Homo sapiens: one gene and its partner. The protein of the gene in region 1 binds, or shares a complex with, the protein of each later gene. Each region holds a gene or a part of one and is shown on either strand. Other genes may lie near its edges.

Region 1 (7,657 bases):
CTGCCTCAGCCTCCCAAATTACTGAGATTACAGTCATGAGCCAGCATGCCCAACCTCATTTAGATTATTTTGTATAAATAACTAGTCTAGTCATTTAAAGTATTTCAGTGAAGTGTGCTACAATATAATTACAAGAATGAATAGGAAACTAGGCTCTGGATTAGGAAATAAGATAGTCACCTTGACACCAACTCCCTTTCTAGCTGACTGAGACATTAGGCAAATGATTTCCTTTCCTTGAACCCCAGTTCTGTCTCTATGGTTAGGGGGGGTCCCCTTATAATTTAGATTCTGTGATTTTGGAAAATTTTACTCACATGATAAAGAAATAGTAGTGAAAGGAAGATGATTGAGTAGGAGCTTGATAGGCTTTATTTTTGACCTCTGGTGAGTGAGAATCCCTGAGCTGAACGATTTGTTTTCTTTCAGTGTGATCCGCCTTATTATGCAGTACTTGAAGGAGAACAGTTTACATCGGGCGTTAGCCACCTTGCAGGAGGAGACTACTGTGTCTCTGAATACTGTGGACAGCATTGAGAGTTTTGTGGCTGACATTAACAGTGGCCATTGGGATACTGTGTTGCAGGCTATACAGTCTCTGAAATTGCCAGACAAAACCCTCATTGACCTCTATGAACAGGTAAGAGTGGTGGTGATGCTGATCCCCATGGGTTGGTTCGTTGTGGGCCAGCTCCCCAACTAAAAAGCGTCAGTGAGCATTCCTTCAAGCACGGTAGGGCTGCATCAGCCCATACAACAATGGCAAGGCTTGACATTGTATTTTTTCTCCCTTCTTGGAAAATCCAGGATTTCCCAAATTAAAATTCTTTCCTTTTTTTGAGACTGGATCTTGTTCTGTTACCCACTCTGGAGTGCAGTGGCAAGATCACAGCTTGCTGCATCCTCCATTTCCAGGATCAATCCTTCCTCCTGCCTCAGCCTCCTGAGTAGCTAGGAACACAGGCACGCACCACCACGCCTGCCTAATTTTTGCATTTTTCTGTAGAGACAGGATCTCACCATAATACCCAGGGTGGTCTCAAACTCCTGGGCTCAAGCAGTTCGCCAGCCTTGACTTTCCAAAGGGCTGGGATTACAGGCACGAGAGAGCCTCAACTTTCTAATCACATAGTTAGTCTTTCTGATAACTAGCTCCTACCTATCCTGAGCCATTTCCTTTGCACAAACCCAGGTGTGATTCAAGGGGCCCAGGAGTAACAAAGATACCCCTATCACTGGTCAAATTCCAAGAAGCTCCAAGCCAAGAACCTAGGACAAAGATCAGACAAATTTGTGATTATAAAACAGCAGAGTAGACTTTCTGGAAATAAGATTGTAATTTGAAGTAAAAGTAGTGAAATTGGTTTTTGGTTTTTGTTTACGGGTTTTTTTTTTTGTTTTTTTTTTGAGACAGAGTCTCACTGTGTTACCCAGGCTGGAGTGCAGTGGTGCGATCTCTGCTCACTGCAACCTCCATCTCCGGGGTTCAAGCGATTCTCCTGCCTCAGCCTCCCGAGTAGCTGGGATTACAGGCGTGCATCACCACGCCCAGCTAAGTTTTGTGTTTAGTAGAGACGGGGTTTCACCACATTGGCCAGGCTGGTCTCCAACTCCTGACCTCAAGTGATCCACCTGCCTCAGCCTCCCAAATGCTGGGATTACAGGTGTGAGCTGCCGTGTCTGGGCAGTTTGTTTCTTTACAATCCGTATGAGTTCAATAATTCCCAAAGAAAATTTTGGTAACTGGAGAAAGGTTTCTCTGGAGCCCATGGGTATATTCCCATCTTTAGCTTTCTTTGGCATCTACATTCTGAGCAAGAAGCCTGAGAGGAGGGGAGATTGGTAGATAAAAATGAAGGATAGAGTTTGAAGGATTGAAATTATTATTTATTTATTTATTGAGACAGATCTCGCTCTGTCGCCCAGGCCAGAGTACAGTAGCATGAGCTTGGCTCACTGCACTCTCCGCCTCTCGGGTTCAAGCAATTCTCCTGCCTCAGCCTCCCAAGTAGCTGGAATTACAGGCATATACCACCACACCCAGCTAATTTTTTTTGTATTTTTAGTAGAGAGTCTGTTTCACCACGTTGGCCAGGCTGGTTTCGAACTGCTGACCTCAAGTGATCCGCCCATCTTGGCCTCCCACAGTGTTAGGATTATAGGCATGAGCCACCAAGCCCACCAAGTCCACCTGAAATTGCTAGTGAAAATGGAAAGGGGCACTTCCTGGTATTGGAAATCCTTTGACAGGCCATATCTGTGTTAGATATTTTACCGAAAAATATTAATAAGACGGTGTGTTGAAACATCTGGGGTTTTTTTTGTTTTTTTTTAATTGTCCAGGTTGTTCTGGAATTGATAGAGCTCCGTGAATTGGGTGCTGCCAGGTCACTTTTGAGACAGACTGATCCCATGATCATGTTAAAACAAACACAGCCAGAGCGATATATTCATCTGGAGAACCTTTTGGCCAGGTCTTACTTTGATCCTCGTGAGGTATGACTGTGGTAATGAAAAGGAACTTTTTGTTAACTTTGGAAATGAAATAACATGATCTTTTTTTTTTTTTTTTACCATTTTATTGTATACTCTTTGTGATTTTGATTTAATTTTTGAGAATGATGCTTCTCTGTTTATATATGTTGGCTGAAATTTGCGTATGTTAAAGAGAATAATTTTGTTCAGTTTTCTGATTATTTGAGTCTTCTATACACCTCAGTTTAGAGGATTGCGTGTTGGTTAGTAAAAAAAGCAGAACATTTTATTCTGATGTCATTTCCACATTAGCCCTCCCCGAAGTGCTGCCTGACTGCTGGTATGTTCACTGATCATTTGTGTGTCTTGCCCCTAACAATTGTAGTTTCCTTCTAGCCTTTTTAGTCCCTAGAAGCTTTTGTTTCTTCGCGGATTATGCTTACCAGTAGAGCATGATGATAGTCTTTTATTCTTCCAAAACGTTATTATCTGTATAGTTTCATTCTTCCTAAACCTTATTATCTGTATGGTTTCATTCTTCCTGCCCACCCCCCCAGCCTTTTACTAGAGGTTTGTCAAAATAGGAGGAAAAAGGATTAAAAAAAATTTTTTATGGGTACATAGTAGGTGTATATATTTATGGGGTACATGAGATATTTTGATATAGGCATGCAGTGCATAATGAGGGTAAATGGAGTATCCATCACCTCAAGCATGTATCCTTTGTGTTACAAACAATTCAATTCTTTCAGTTATTTTAAAATGTATAATTATTATTGGCTATAGTCACCCTGTTGTGCTATCAAATACTATTTCTTATTTATTCTTTATATTTTTTGTATCTATTAACCATCCCCACTTTCCTTCTTACCCCCGCCACCTCCACCCTTCCCAGCCTCTGACAACCATCCTTCTACTCTCTATCTCCATGTTTTAATTTTTAGTTCCTGCAAATAAATGAGAACATGCAAAGTCTGTCTTTCTGTGCCTGGCTTATTTCGCTTACCATAATGAGCTCTAGTTACATGCATGTTGTTGCAAATGACAGGATTTCATTCTTTTATATGTCCAGCTAGTACACCATTGTGTACATGTACCTCATTTTCTTTATTTATCTGTTAATGGTCACTTATCGTTGCTTCCAAATCTTGCCTATTGTGAACACTGCTGTAATAAACATGGGAGTGCAGATATCTCTTTGATATACTGATTTCCTTTTGGGTGTGTACCTAGCAGTGGGATTGCTGGATCATATGGTACCTCCATGTTTAATTTTTTGAGGAATCTCCAAACTATTCTCCATAGTGGTTGTACTAATTTACATTCCCACTAATAGTGTACGAGGGTTCCTTTTTCTCCACTTACTCACCAGCATTTGTTATTTCCTGTCTTTTTGTATAAAAGCCATTTTAACTGGAGTGAGATGATATCTCATTGTAGTTTGATTTGCATTTCTCTAATGATCAGTTGTGTTGAGCACCTTTAAATAAACCTGTTTGCCTTGTGTGTGTCTTTTTTTGAGAAATGTCTATTCAGATCTTTCACCCATTTTTAACATTGGATTATCAGATTTTTTTCCCGTAGAGTTGTTTGAGCTCCTTATATATTCTGGGTTTTGTTGTTGTTGTTGTTGTTGTTTTTGAGACAGAGCTCTGTTACCCAGGCTGGAGTGCAGTGGCGTGATCTCGGCTCACTGCAGCCTCCGCTTCCTGGGTCCAAGTAATTCTCGTGCCTCAGCCACCAAGTAGCTGGGATTACTGGTGTGTGCCACCACACTCAGCTAATTTTTGAGTTTTCAGTAGAGATGGGGTTTCGCCATGTTGGCCAGGTTGGTCTCGAAGTCCTGGCCTCAAGCAGTCCACCCGCCTCGGCCTCCCAAAGTGCTAGGATGACAGGCATGAGCCACCACACTTGGCCCTGTATTCTGGTTATTTATTTATTTGTTTATTTATTTTTCTGAGACAGAGTCTTGCTGTTGTCTCCCCGGCTGGAGTGCAATGGCACGATCTTAGCTCACTGCAACCTCCACCTCCCAGGTTCCAGGAATTCTCCTGCCTCAGCCTCCCGAGTAGCTGAGATTACAGGCACCCACCACTATGGCCTGGCTAGTTTTTCTATTTTTAGTAGCGACAGAGTTTCACCATGTTGGCCAGGCTGGTCACAAACTCCTGACCTCGGGTGATCTGCCAGCCTCAGCCCCCGAAAATGTTGGGATTACAGGCGTGAGCCACCCTGCCCAGCCATATTCTGGTTATTAATCCCTTGTCAGATGGGTAGTTTGCAAGTATTTTCTCAGGAGGAAGAAGAACTTAATAGGCACTGGATAATAGAATGTTAGAGTAAACCTACAAAATCTATGAGGATAAAGGAAAGGATTTTAGATTACCAGGACAGGATTTAACTTAGAGGTGGTGAAGCACTTCTGTGCTGGGAGCCATTTAAGAAATTACTAAAGAGTATAAAAGAATTCTTGGTTCTGCAAATTTTTCAAAAACTGGAAGAACAACTCTGGGTTTAATGTGGTTTACTTGGACTCTTTTCAGAAAAATAGCAGTGTGTCCTTTGGCCAGGAACTCAGTGAAAAAATAATAATAGTGTGGATTGGCTGACCTCAGTTTTCTCCCAACTCATACTTTTGAAATGCAAGCGGGCAGAATTGGGAAGTCATTTTCAAAAACTAAATTAGTTCAACTAATCCCTTCTTTAACTGGGTAATTTCTTTTCACATTTTCCTCTGTGTATGCTTCTGCTTGTTTGTTTTAAATAAGCACACTCATATCTTGTTGTTGCTTCTTGGAAATGATGCTACACCCTCTCCTTTTTCAGGCATACCCAGATGGAAGTAGCAAAGAAAAGAGAAGAGCAGCAATTGCCCAGGCCTTAGCTGGCGAAGTCAGTGTGGTGCCTCCATCTCGTCTCATGGCATTGCTGGGACAGGTAATTCAATTCCTGTAGAGGCCAGGTGTGGTGGCTCACACCTGTCATCCTTGCACTTTGGGAGGCTGAGGCAGGAGAATCACTTGAGCCTAGTAGTTGGAGACCAGCCTAAGCAACATTGTGAGACTCTGTCTCTACAAAAAGTAAAAAAATTAGCGGGTTATGGTGGGGTGTGCCTGTGGTCTCAGTTACTTGGGAGGCTGAGGTGGGACAATCACTGGAGCCCAGAAGATTGAGATGACAGCTATGATCATGCCATTATACTCCAGCTTGGGCAACAGAGTGAGACCCTGTCTCCAAAAATAAAAATAAATTTAAAAAGTGAACTCCTGGTACAATTTCCTAATTTCCTATGTATAAACTATGTCTTAGCTGAAGAAATTGTACACCCTAAGAATTGGGGACTACCTACAGAGTTGCTTATTCCAGTAACTGTGCTGTTCCACTCTCCCTCTTTCCTGGGAGAGGCAATATAGATTAGTGGTTAAGAACAAGCTCTGGAGTCAGTTAGAATTAGGGTTACCATAGAATTTATCATCCTGTCTGGAATATCGTTGAGAGTACAGTTGATCCCTATGCCAGAACACCAAGTGCAAATAGTAACTGTCCTGGAAAGATTGGAACAAATGCCCATCCTAGTTAGAATCCAGGCTTTCTCATTTACCAGCTATATAGTCTTGGCAAATTACTTAACTTTTCTGGTCCCATTTACTCGTCACAGTATTGAGAGTAAGGATTAAGAGAAATAATGTTCATAAACACTTTATACATTTCCTGGCACCTTGTAAATAGTAAATGGTAGCTGCTGGTGATGATTTTTTAAAAAATTACTAATAGTGTTGCCAGCATGGTCATTATTATAAAGCTACTTAGAGTAATAGATATATTATAAATAACAAAGGGCACAAGTGATTAATAGGGATGTTAATAACCTTTTTGCACTAAATCTGCATTTAGAAAAGGACCAAAAAGCTATTTGTTGCAGGCCTGCAGTGACTCTGAGATTCAAAAGTAAGCTGCTTTTTGGCCTGGCGTGGTGGCCCATGCCTGTAATCCCAGCACTTTGGGAGGCCAAGGTGGGTGGATCACCTGAGATCAGGGGCTCGAGATGAGCCTGGCCAACATGGTGAAACCCCGTCTCTACTAAAAATACAAAAATTAGCTGGGCGTGGTGGCAGGAACCTGTAATCTCAGCTACTCGGGAGGCTGAGGCAGGAGAATCACATGAACCCAGGAGGCAGAGGTTGCAGTGAGCCGAGATTGAGCCATTGCACTCCAGCCTGGGAGACAAGAGCGAGACTTCATCTCAAAAAAAAAAAAAAAAAAAGTAAGCTGCTTTTTGATTTCTTAATCAAACTAATAGCAGTGCATCGTTTAAGTAGTACTTCAGGGCTTACAGTGAAAAACAGTCCCATGTGCTTCCCTTCTCCACCTCTGATTCTTAACTTTCCTGACTTAGCTCCATAGCTGAATACCATGTTTATACTGTTATTACCTGATTTTTTTTTTTTTTTTTTTTTTTTTTTGGTCATTAGCAACTAACTTTCTTCAGCGAAAAATGATTTGTCTTATACCCACTCTCCTCAATACACACTTACTCTTCTTCTGGATTTTCAGTAGAGCTGTATCACAACTTTTGGTTCAATCTATATTCAATGTTTACATAGTTATTTTTATATAGCTATTGTTCACAGCTAAAAAATAATTACATGTAATTTCTTACATAAATTTTTATGATTTGCAATAATTATTGCTTATTTTTTCTTTTGCCTAGTTTTCTATGCACTTCTGCTAGTCCAGCCTGAGTATTTCTAGTAGAACCGTCAAAAGTCCTTTTTTTTCCGCTTGCTGATATCTTTCCTGAGGCCCTTCTCTTTTTGTTCCCATCAGGACTAGTTCTCTTGCATTGCTGCACAGTTACTGTACCAGGACTTCTCTCATCTTCATACTGGGAATTTTGGGTCTCTTATTTTTTTGGTAGGTCTTATTTATAGATTCCTCAGTTTTCTTTTTTTTTTTGAGACAGAGTCTCACTCTGTCGCCAGGCTGGAGTGCAGTGGCACGATCTTGGCTCACTGCAACCTCCGCCTTCTGGGTTCGAGCAATTCTCCTGCCTCAGCCTCCCGAGTAGCTGGGACCACAGGTGCCCACCACCATGCCCAGCTAATTTTTGTATTTTTAGTAGAGACGGGGTTTCACCATGTTGGCCAGGATGGTCTCGATCTCTTGACCTCGTGATCTGCCC
Region 2 (8,211 bases), on another chromosome or scaffold:
GTTTACCAGATATGTCAGTGACCCAGGAAGTACACAGAGATCAATGTAACAGAGAAAAGAAAAACAAACTTATATGAGAACTCGAGTATATTATAGGGATGGCATTAAAAATCAGTAGAAAATGGATGGGGTGAGAAGGGACAATTGGCCAACCATATAGTAAAATTAGACCTCTAACTTCCACCACAGACACAAAAATTCCAGATGGATTAAAGACGCAACTATGAAAAACTTATCTTAAATATTTACATTCCCTACTGGACTGTAAGCTAACTTATAATCTGTCTTGTATAAGTGTGTATTCAACTCAATTTAATATATACAAACACTCAGAAGATAGAAAACCTTTACAATATGAGTATCTGTGATCTCAGTGCAGGGAAGGATTATTTCTTAAACGATATACAAAAAAAAGCTAAAACCATACAAGATAAAGTTGATAAATCTGATAATACTAAAACTAGAAACGTGTGTAAGAGAAGACTCCATAATTAAAAGACAAGCCAAAAAATGGGGAAACGTATACTATAGATTTGGAATATATAAAAACAAAGCAAACAGAAAGTGGGTAACTGACAGAAACAGGTAATTCATGGAAAAGAAAATCTAGAGAGCTTATTAGACACATGAACAAGATGCCCAGCATCGGCCGGACGCAGTAGCTCTATGGTGAGCCGAGATGGAGCCATTGCACTCCAGCTTGGTCAACAAGAGTGAAACTCTTTCTCAAAAAAAAAAAAAAAAAAAGCCCAGCATCACTAGTAATCAGGGGAATGCAAATTAGAATAATGAGATACCATTTCACACCTGTTAGATTGGGCAAAAAATGTAAAAATCTGATACAACCAAGTGTGTAGATGATGAATATATGGGAAATAAAGCTCTTAGGTTCTCAAAGTTTGTTTTCTTTTTTTTCTTTGAGACAGAGTCTTGCTCTGTTGGCCAGGCTGGAGTGCAGTGGCATGATCTTGGCTCCATGAAACCTCCACCTGCCGGGTTCAAGTGATTCTCCTGCCTCAGCCTTCCAAACAGCTGGGATTACAGGCGTGCGCCATCACACCCGGCTAATTTTTGTATTTTTAGTAGAGACGGGGTTTCACCATGTTGGCCAGGCTGGTCTCAAACTCCTGACCTCAGGTGATCCACCCATCTCGGCCTCCCAAAGTGCTGGGATTACAGGCCTGAGGCATCACGCCCAGCCTTTGTTTTAACAGACAGGGTCTTGATCTGTTGCTTAGGTTGGAGTGTAATGGCACAATCATAGCTCATTGCATCTTTGAACTTTCGAGCATAAGTGATCCTCCTGCTTTGGCTTCCCCCAAGTAGCAGGAGCACATCACTACATCCCGCTAATTTTTAATTATTATTATTATTATTATTTTTGAGACGAAGTCTTGCTCTTGTCCCCCAGGCTGGAGTGCAATGGTGCGATCTCGGCTCACTGCAACCTCTGCCCCCTGAGTTCAAGTGATTCTCCTGCCTCAGCCTACCGAGTAGCTGGGATTACAGGCGCCTGCCACCACACCTGGCTAATTTTTGTATTTTTAGTAGAGACGGTTTCACCACGTTGGCCAGGTTGGTCTCGAACTCTTGACCTCAGGTGATCCACCAGCCTCAGCCTCCCAAAGTGCTGGGATTACAGGCGTGAGCCACCGCGCCGGGCCCTAATTTTTATTTTTGCAGAGATTGGCGGGGGTGGGGGGTGGTCTCGCTATGTTGCCCAAGCTGGTCTTGAACTCCTGGCCTCAAGCGATCCTCCTGCCTCAGCCTCCCGAAGTGCTGAGATTACAGGTGTAAGCCACTGTGCTCCACAAATTCTTATGTTCTTATAACTTACTTTGGGGAGCAATTGGCAACAGGTACTAAATAAAGCTAGTATTGGCTAGAGAATGACAATTGCAGAACTTTCTTTTTTTTTTTTTGAGAGAGTGTCTCACACTGTGGCCCAGGCTGGAGTGCAATGGTGCGATCTCTGCTCACTGCGACCTCCACCTCCCGGGTTCAAGCAATTCTCCTGCCTCAGATTCCCAAGTAGCTGGGATTACAGGTACCCACCACCATGCATGGCTAATTTTTTGTATTTTTAGTAGAGACGGGGTTTCGCCATGATCGCCAGGCTGTCTTGAACTCCTGACCTCAGGTGTTCAGCCCGCCTCAGCCTCCCAAAGTGCTGGGTTTATGGGCATAAGACACCGTGCCTGGCCGCAGCACTTTTTTGAACAAGGGGACAACCACCTGCCTCTCAGTAGGGAATAAAGTGTGGATTACAGTTTATTTTATACAATGGAATTCATAAGCTGTTAAGATGAATGAATTAGATGTATAGGGATCCAAAGATAATTCTCAAAAGCCATGTTGAGACTAGATACGGCGGCATCTACTCGGGAGGCTGAGGCAGGAGGACAGCCTGAGCCCCAGGAATTCGAGTCCAGCCTGGGCAGCATAAGCAGACTTCTATGGACAGCAAAAGAGGGACTGTATCCCGCACAATGCCCTGCCAACAGGCATTCTCTATCTATCTATCTAGTCTGATATTATATACATATTCTGATATATACTTAAGTTCCTAATTATTAGATTAATAATATACTTAAGTTCCTAAGTAATTACACTAATAATACATAAATTCTTGTAATTATATGTAATTAGTGATATTATATTCTAATCATAATATATATTAGACTAATACATATATTCTAGCATATATATATTAGACATATATATTCTGATATATACTTAAGTTCCTAATGTTTTTATATGTGTAATATATATTATATATATGTAACATTAGTCTAAGGAATTTGTGGAGGCTAACAGAAGAGAGGTGCTTGCTGAATACGAGAGCAGGCCACAGGAACAAGATCGGATGCAAGTGGGTGGGGGTGGAAAGATCGAAGAATCTGGCAGCCAGATCTCAAGAGCTGGCGGGGTTGGAGTGGTCTGTCCGGGAGAGGTCTGGAGGTTGCTGGGGCCGGAAGGGGTTAAAATTCGACTGGGAAGAGGGTGTTAGCACCGTACCTTTCTCATTGCGAACTGGGACGGCCCCAGCCGTAGACTGAATGGGCGGTTGCTTCATGAGAGCGCTTGGGACCGACATGTTGATGGCAGCGACGGTGATTCCCGAAACTTGACTAATTCCAAACAGTGAACACCAGCAACGTCAACGAAGAGAAGAAATTCCTTCCACCTGAGTCCGCGAACACAGCTGCGCGACTGATAGAGAAACTACTTACGGCTGAGCTAGATAAACCGGAAATACGTGACGAGAGGATTGTGGGATGGTGGACGACGTTTGGGCGCCCACAGCTAGGAAGTCGAGTCGGTTTCTGCGCATGCTCATTGGCTGCCCGCATGTCCTCTACGTCGCAGAATTTGGAAGCAGCTTTTGGCGGGAAATTTTGCTTCCTTTGGGCTTTGCTGTTAGGACTCTGCGGTGAGGAAGGTTCGAATGAAAGATTTTACGTGTTAGCTTGGTTTGAAGCCAAGAACGGTATAGTGAATAAGAAACTCAGGCGACAGTGAGTTACTGTTTGAATGGCTTGTTGAAAGCTCAGAAGAAGTAGAGTTTGATGGAATAAAAATCTTGCCAGTAGTATCCGATTAGCTTAGTTCATAAGGCCAGGGTGGGCTGTGGTGCGGTATTTGGTTTCACAGGGCAGGTGGTGCTGATTTAGGCCAGTGACCGAAAAAAAAAAAAAAAAAACTCCCGAGGTGCCTGGGACATTGCCCACCTGAAATCCCAAAACTCCACTTTTTTAGGCTTTCAGGTTTTTCCAGTTTCTGGAAACTACCTATTAAAATACATTCCTGGCTAGAAAATGTTTGTATTTAAATATCTAAGTAATTATTATTCTTTTGAGACTGTCTTTTTCTGTCACCCAGGCTGGAGTGCAGTGGCTCGATCTCAGCTCACTGCAGTCTCCACCTCCCGGGTTTAAGCAATTCTCGTGCCTCAGCCTTCTGATTAGCTGGGATTACAGGCGCCTGCCACCACTCCCTGCTGATTTTTGTATTTTTAGTAGAGACGAGGTTTCACCATGTTGGCCAGGCTTAAGTGATCCGCCCACTCCGGCCTCCCACAGTGCTGAGTGTTGGCGTGGGCCACCACTCCCGGCTAATTTTTGTATTTTTAGTAGAGGCAGGGTTTCGCCATGTTGCCCAGGCTGGTCTTGAACTCCTGACCTCAGATGATCCACCTACCTCGGCCTCCCCAAAGTGCTGGGATTACAGAGGTGAGCCACCGCACCCGGCCTATTTAAGAACTCTTTAAGGACTTACAGGATAATAACAGAAGCAGCTCCAATTTACAAGCTGAGTCGTGTTAAAAAATATATATAATATTGGCTAATTGGAAAGTCAGGACACATTTCACAGTAGAAAGGACTTTATAACTGCGGGGGAGACAAGGGACAGTAGGAACAAAGTCTTAAAGTCCAGAAACAGTATGTTTTATACAGGACACCATGAAAAGTTTGGTTTTATCAGTAATTTTTGAGTCATGAGGGGCCTTGAAGTTGCTATTAATATGATTAACCCAAATTACTTCACCTGTGTTCTACAATTGGGCCTTGAGTGGGAGAAGAAATGAAACTGGACAAATCTCAGGCAAGGAACAGTGTGGGACCCAACTAAGCAACCAAGGAAACAGTTTTGGGCTAGAAGGAACCTTAAAGAGAATAGCCAGAATCTTATTTTATTATTTATAGAAGAGGGTCTTGCTCTGTCGCTCAGGCTGGAGTTCCGCGCAATCACGGCTCACTGTGGCCTCATCCTTCTAGGTTCAAGCCATTTTCCCACCCCTGCCTTCTGAGTAGCTGGGACTACAGACGTACAACACCACGCTGGGCTAATTTTTGTATTTTTTATAGAGATGGGGTCTCACTATGTTGCCCAGGCTGGTTTGGAACTCCTGGGCCCAAGTGATCCACTCCTCTCGGCCTCTCAAAGTGTTGGGATTACAGGCGTTAGCCACCGCTCCCGGCCTGTTAGTGTTTTTCAAAGCGACATCCCAGTACCACCAGAATCAAAATCACCAGTCAAAGGTAAAAATGTCAGTTCAGCCCCAGGACATCCCTAAAGAATTTGAGTCTAGGGCTTTAAGACAGCATTTTTTTTTTTTTGAGACGGAGTCTCACTCTTGTTGCCCAGACTGGAGTGCAATGGCGCGATCTCAGCTCACTGCAACCTCTGCCCCCTGGGTTCAAGCAATTCTGCCTCAGCCTCCTGAGTAACTGGGATTACAGGCACGCGCCACCAAGCCCGGCTAATTTTTGTAATTTTAGTAGAGACGGGGTTTCGTCATGTTGGCCAGGCTGGTCTCAAACTCCTGACCTCAGGTGATCCGCCGCCTCAGCCTCCCAAAGTGCTTAGGATTACAGGCGGGAGCCACCGCGCCTGGCCAAGGCGGCCTTCTTAAGAAGCGCGCGTAAAACCCCAACTTCCTGCTCTGGCGCTGCGGCCGCTGGGGATCTGAGTGGGCTCCGCCCCGCCTCGGACCCGCCCCTCCCGGCCTCCCGCCGCAATCTTGGCGGGAAGGCGCCGGCCGCTAAGAAGCCGAAAGATGTCCAGGTCGGGCGCGGCGGCTGAGAAGGCGGACTCCAGACAGCGACCCCAGATGAAGGTGAGAAACGGACTGGTGCTTCCAAGGTGTGCTCCTGCCTCGGTTTTTGTGAGGGTTATGCGGGACACAGGCCCAGGAGGTCGAGGGCACCTGGCACCGGGGGTAGGCGGGGGATCCCTGCCCTTAGGCCTTCAGCTTTGACGAAAGGTTCTTATCAATAACCCGAGAAATAGTGGGAGAGTCACATCTGGGATTCCCTTTCTTCAACCTTCTGCGTTTTCTTCTGCCACAGTTATGATCGGCTTCACACTCTTTAAATAATTCCAGACAATCCGCAGCTGACAGTTGGGGTATTTGCCCCAGTCACAAATGCTAGTCATTATTATTATTGGTCTGGAAAACTTATGGGCAAATGTGCCCAGTAAGTGAATTCTACTGAGGTTAAGGTTAGTGAATTACATATCTAGGATTTTGGAGGGGAAAATAAGTTTTCTTACGAAGGGTGTCAATTTGGATTTATTTATTTTTTTGAGCTTAAGTCTCACTCTGTTGCCCAGGCTGGAGGGCAGTGGTGTGATCTCGGCTCACTGCAACCTCCGTCTCCCGGGTTCAAGTGATTCTTCTGCCTCAGCCTCCTGAGTAGCTGGGACTACAGGCGTGTGCCACTATGCCCAGCTAATTTTTGTATTTTTAGTAGAGACAGGTGGTTTCATTATGTTAGCCAGGATGGTCTCGATCTCCTGACCTCGCGATCTGCCCGATTGGGCCTCCCAAAGTGCTGGGATTACAGGCGTGAGCCACTGCACCTGGCCTCAATTTGGATTTATATTGTCTTTGGGAAATGGGAATTATTAGATCTGTTAGGGATCCTGTAAGAAAAGGCACAGGACTTGGAGTTCTAATATTCTGTTTTCTTTTATTGATCTGAATAGGTAAATGAATATAAAGAAAATCAAAACATCGCTTATGTGTCTCTGAGACCAGCACAGACTACAGTTTTAATAAAAACAGCTAAGGTCTATCTTGCCCCCTTTTCACTCAGTAATTACCAGCTAGACCAGCTTATGTGCCCCAAATCCCTATCAGAAAAGAATTCTAACAATGAAGTGGCGTGTAAGAAGACTAAAATAAAGAAAACTTGCAGAAGGATTATACCTCCAAAGATGAAAAACACATCTTCCAAGGCAGAATCCACGCTGCAAAATTCATCCTCAGCTGTTCATACTGAAAGTAACAAGCTACAACCCAAGAGAACGGCAGATGCGATGAATCTCAGTGTTGATGTGGAAAGTAGTCAGGATGGAGACAGTGATGAAGATACCACACCATCCCTGGTAAGAACTTAATTAGTAGCTTGTTCTGGTTTCTCTTTTTTGAAATTTGAAGTTCTGATAAATCGAAGTTTTTCGAGGATCTCTCTGGTACAAACAAGTTATTTCATCATCTAATGTAAGTATAAATGTAATAATACATTTTTATTATTTTTAAGGTTTAACAAATAACTTCCTTGGGTTATTTTTGCTCTTGCTGTTGATGTGTCAATGAAAGGATTGACTTAATCTTTACTCTGCTTCCTTTTTTCTTTCTCTAAACTAACTGCATATATTTTTGGGTTTAGTCATACTTTATGGTGCCTTTCTCACCTTTACATGTTTATGTACAGTATATCAGAAGTCATCAGTTTGTGGGACATGGTATTGACTGACCTTTGATATCAGGGTAGGGAAACATAAATTGATTCTATGGTTGTGTTGAATAATATTTCCTTTAAATGCAAAACGAGACAAATGACAGAGTAGGTAAGATACATGAGAAACACATTTGTTCTGTGTAATTCCAATCAATTTAAGGAATTTGGTGTGTAATTTTTTTCTTTTTTTTTTTTTTGGAGACAGAGTCTCGCTCTGTCGCCCAGGCCAGAGTGCAGTGACGCTATCTCGGCTCACTGCAACCTCGGCCTCCCAGTTTTAATAGATTGTCCTGCTTCAGCCTCCTGAGTAGCTGGGATTACAGGCGCGTGCCACCACACCTGGTTAATTTTGTGTTTTTAGTAGAGACGGGGTTTCACCATGTTTGTCAGGCTGGTCTCTAACTCCTGACCTTGTGATCCACCCGCCTCAGCCTCCCAAAGTGCTGGGATTACAGGGGTGAGCCACTGCGCCCAGCCTGGTCTGTAATTCTTTTGGCTTCTGCTGCCTACCAGGAGCGCCGTGCTCCATTCAAAGTGACAAATTTTAACTGGACAAGATAAAACATACATAGCACATGACACAATGTTGATGGAACTCAGAAAACAGAAAATGATCCTAGGGAAAGGGAGATACTATAATTGAAGGCTTGTTGTTATGAAATAGAAGTTTGCTTTATGCTTTCTCGTCCCAGAGTTAAGAACCAGGACTCATAGTGGGACAGCATGGGGTAAGTATTAAATGAATTGGACTTGGGGTTGAGAGCCTAGCATGGCCACTTTTTTTTTTTTTTTTTTTTTTTTTTGAGACGAGTCTTGTTCTGTTGCCCAGGATGGAGCGCAGTGGCATGATCTCGGCTTACTGCAAGCTCCTCCTCCCGGGTTCACACCATTCTCCTGCCTCAGCCTCCTGAGTAGCTGGGATTACAGGCGCCCGCCACCATGCCCGGCTAATTTTTTATAT

The links. Proteins that work in one complex are often made in the same cells at the same time.
Region 2: SMU1 (region 1) and MFAP1 share a complex: the UniProt entries of both Homo sapiens proteins name them as parts of the spliceosome B complex.

The regions. Positions count from the first base shown.
Region 1 is NC_000009.12:33,066,579-33,074,235, reverse strand, and holds part of SMU1 (WD40 repeat-containing protein SMU1), read left to right. Parts: intron 1-429; coding exon 430-640; intron 641-2,343; coding exon 2,344-2,496; intron 2,497-5,301; coding exon 5,302-5,412; intron 5,413-7,657. UniProt on the Homo sapiens protein: Involved in pre-mRNA splicing as a component of the spliceosome. Regulates alternative splicing of the HSPG2 pre-mRNA. Required for normal accumulation of IK.
Region 2 is NC_000015.10:43,821,473-43,829,683, forward strand, and holds the start of MFAP1 (microfibrillar-associated protein 1), read right to left. Parts: upstream 3,219-8,211; 5' UTR 3,098-3,218; coding exon 3,019-3,097; intron 1-3,018. Other genes in the region: WDR76 (WD repeat-containing protein 76), read left to right, coding at 5,561-5,620, 6,493-6,894. UniProt on the Homo sapiens protein: Involved in pre-mRNA splicing as a component of the spliceosome.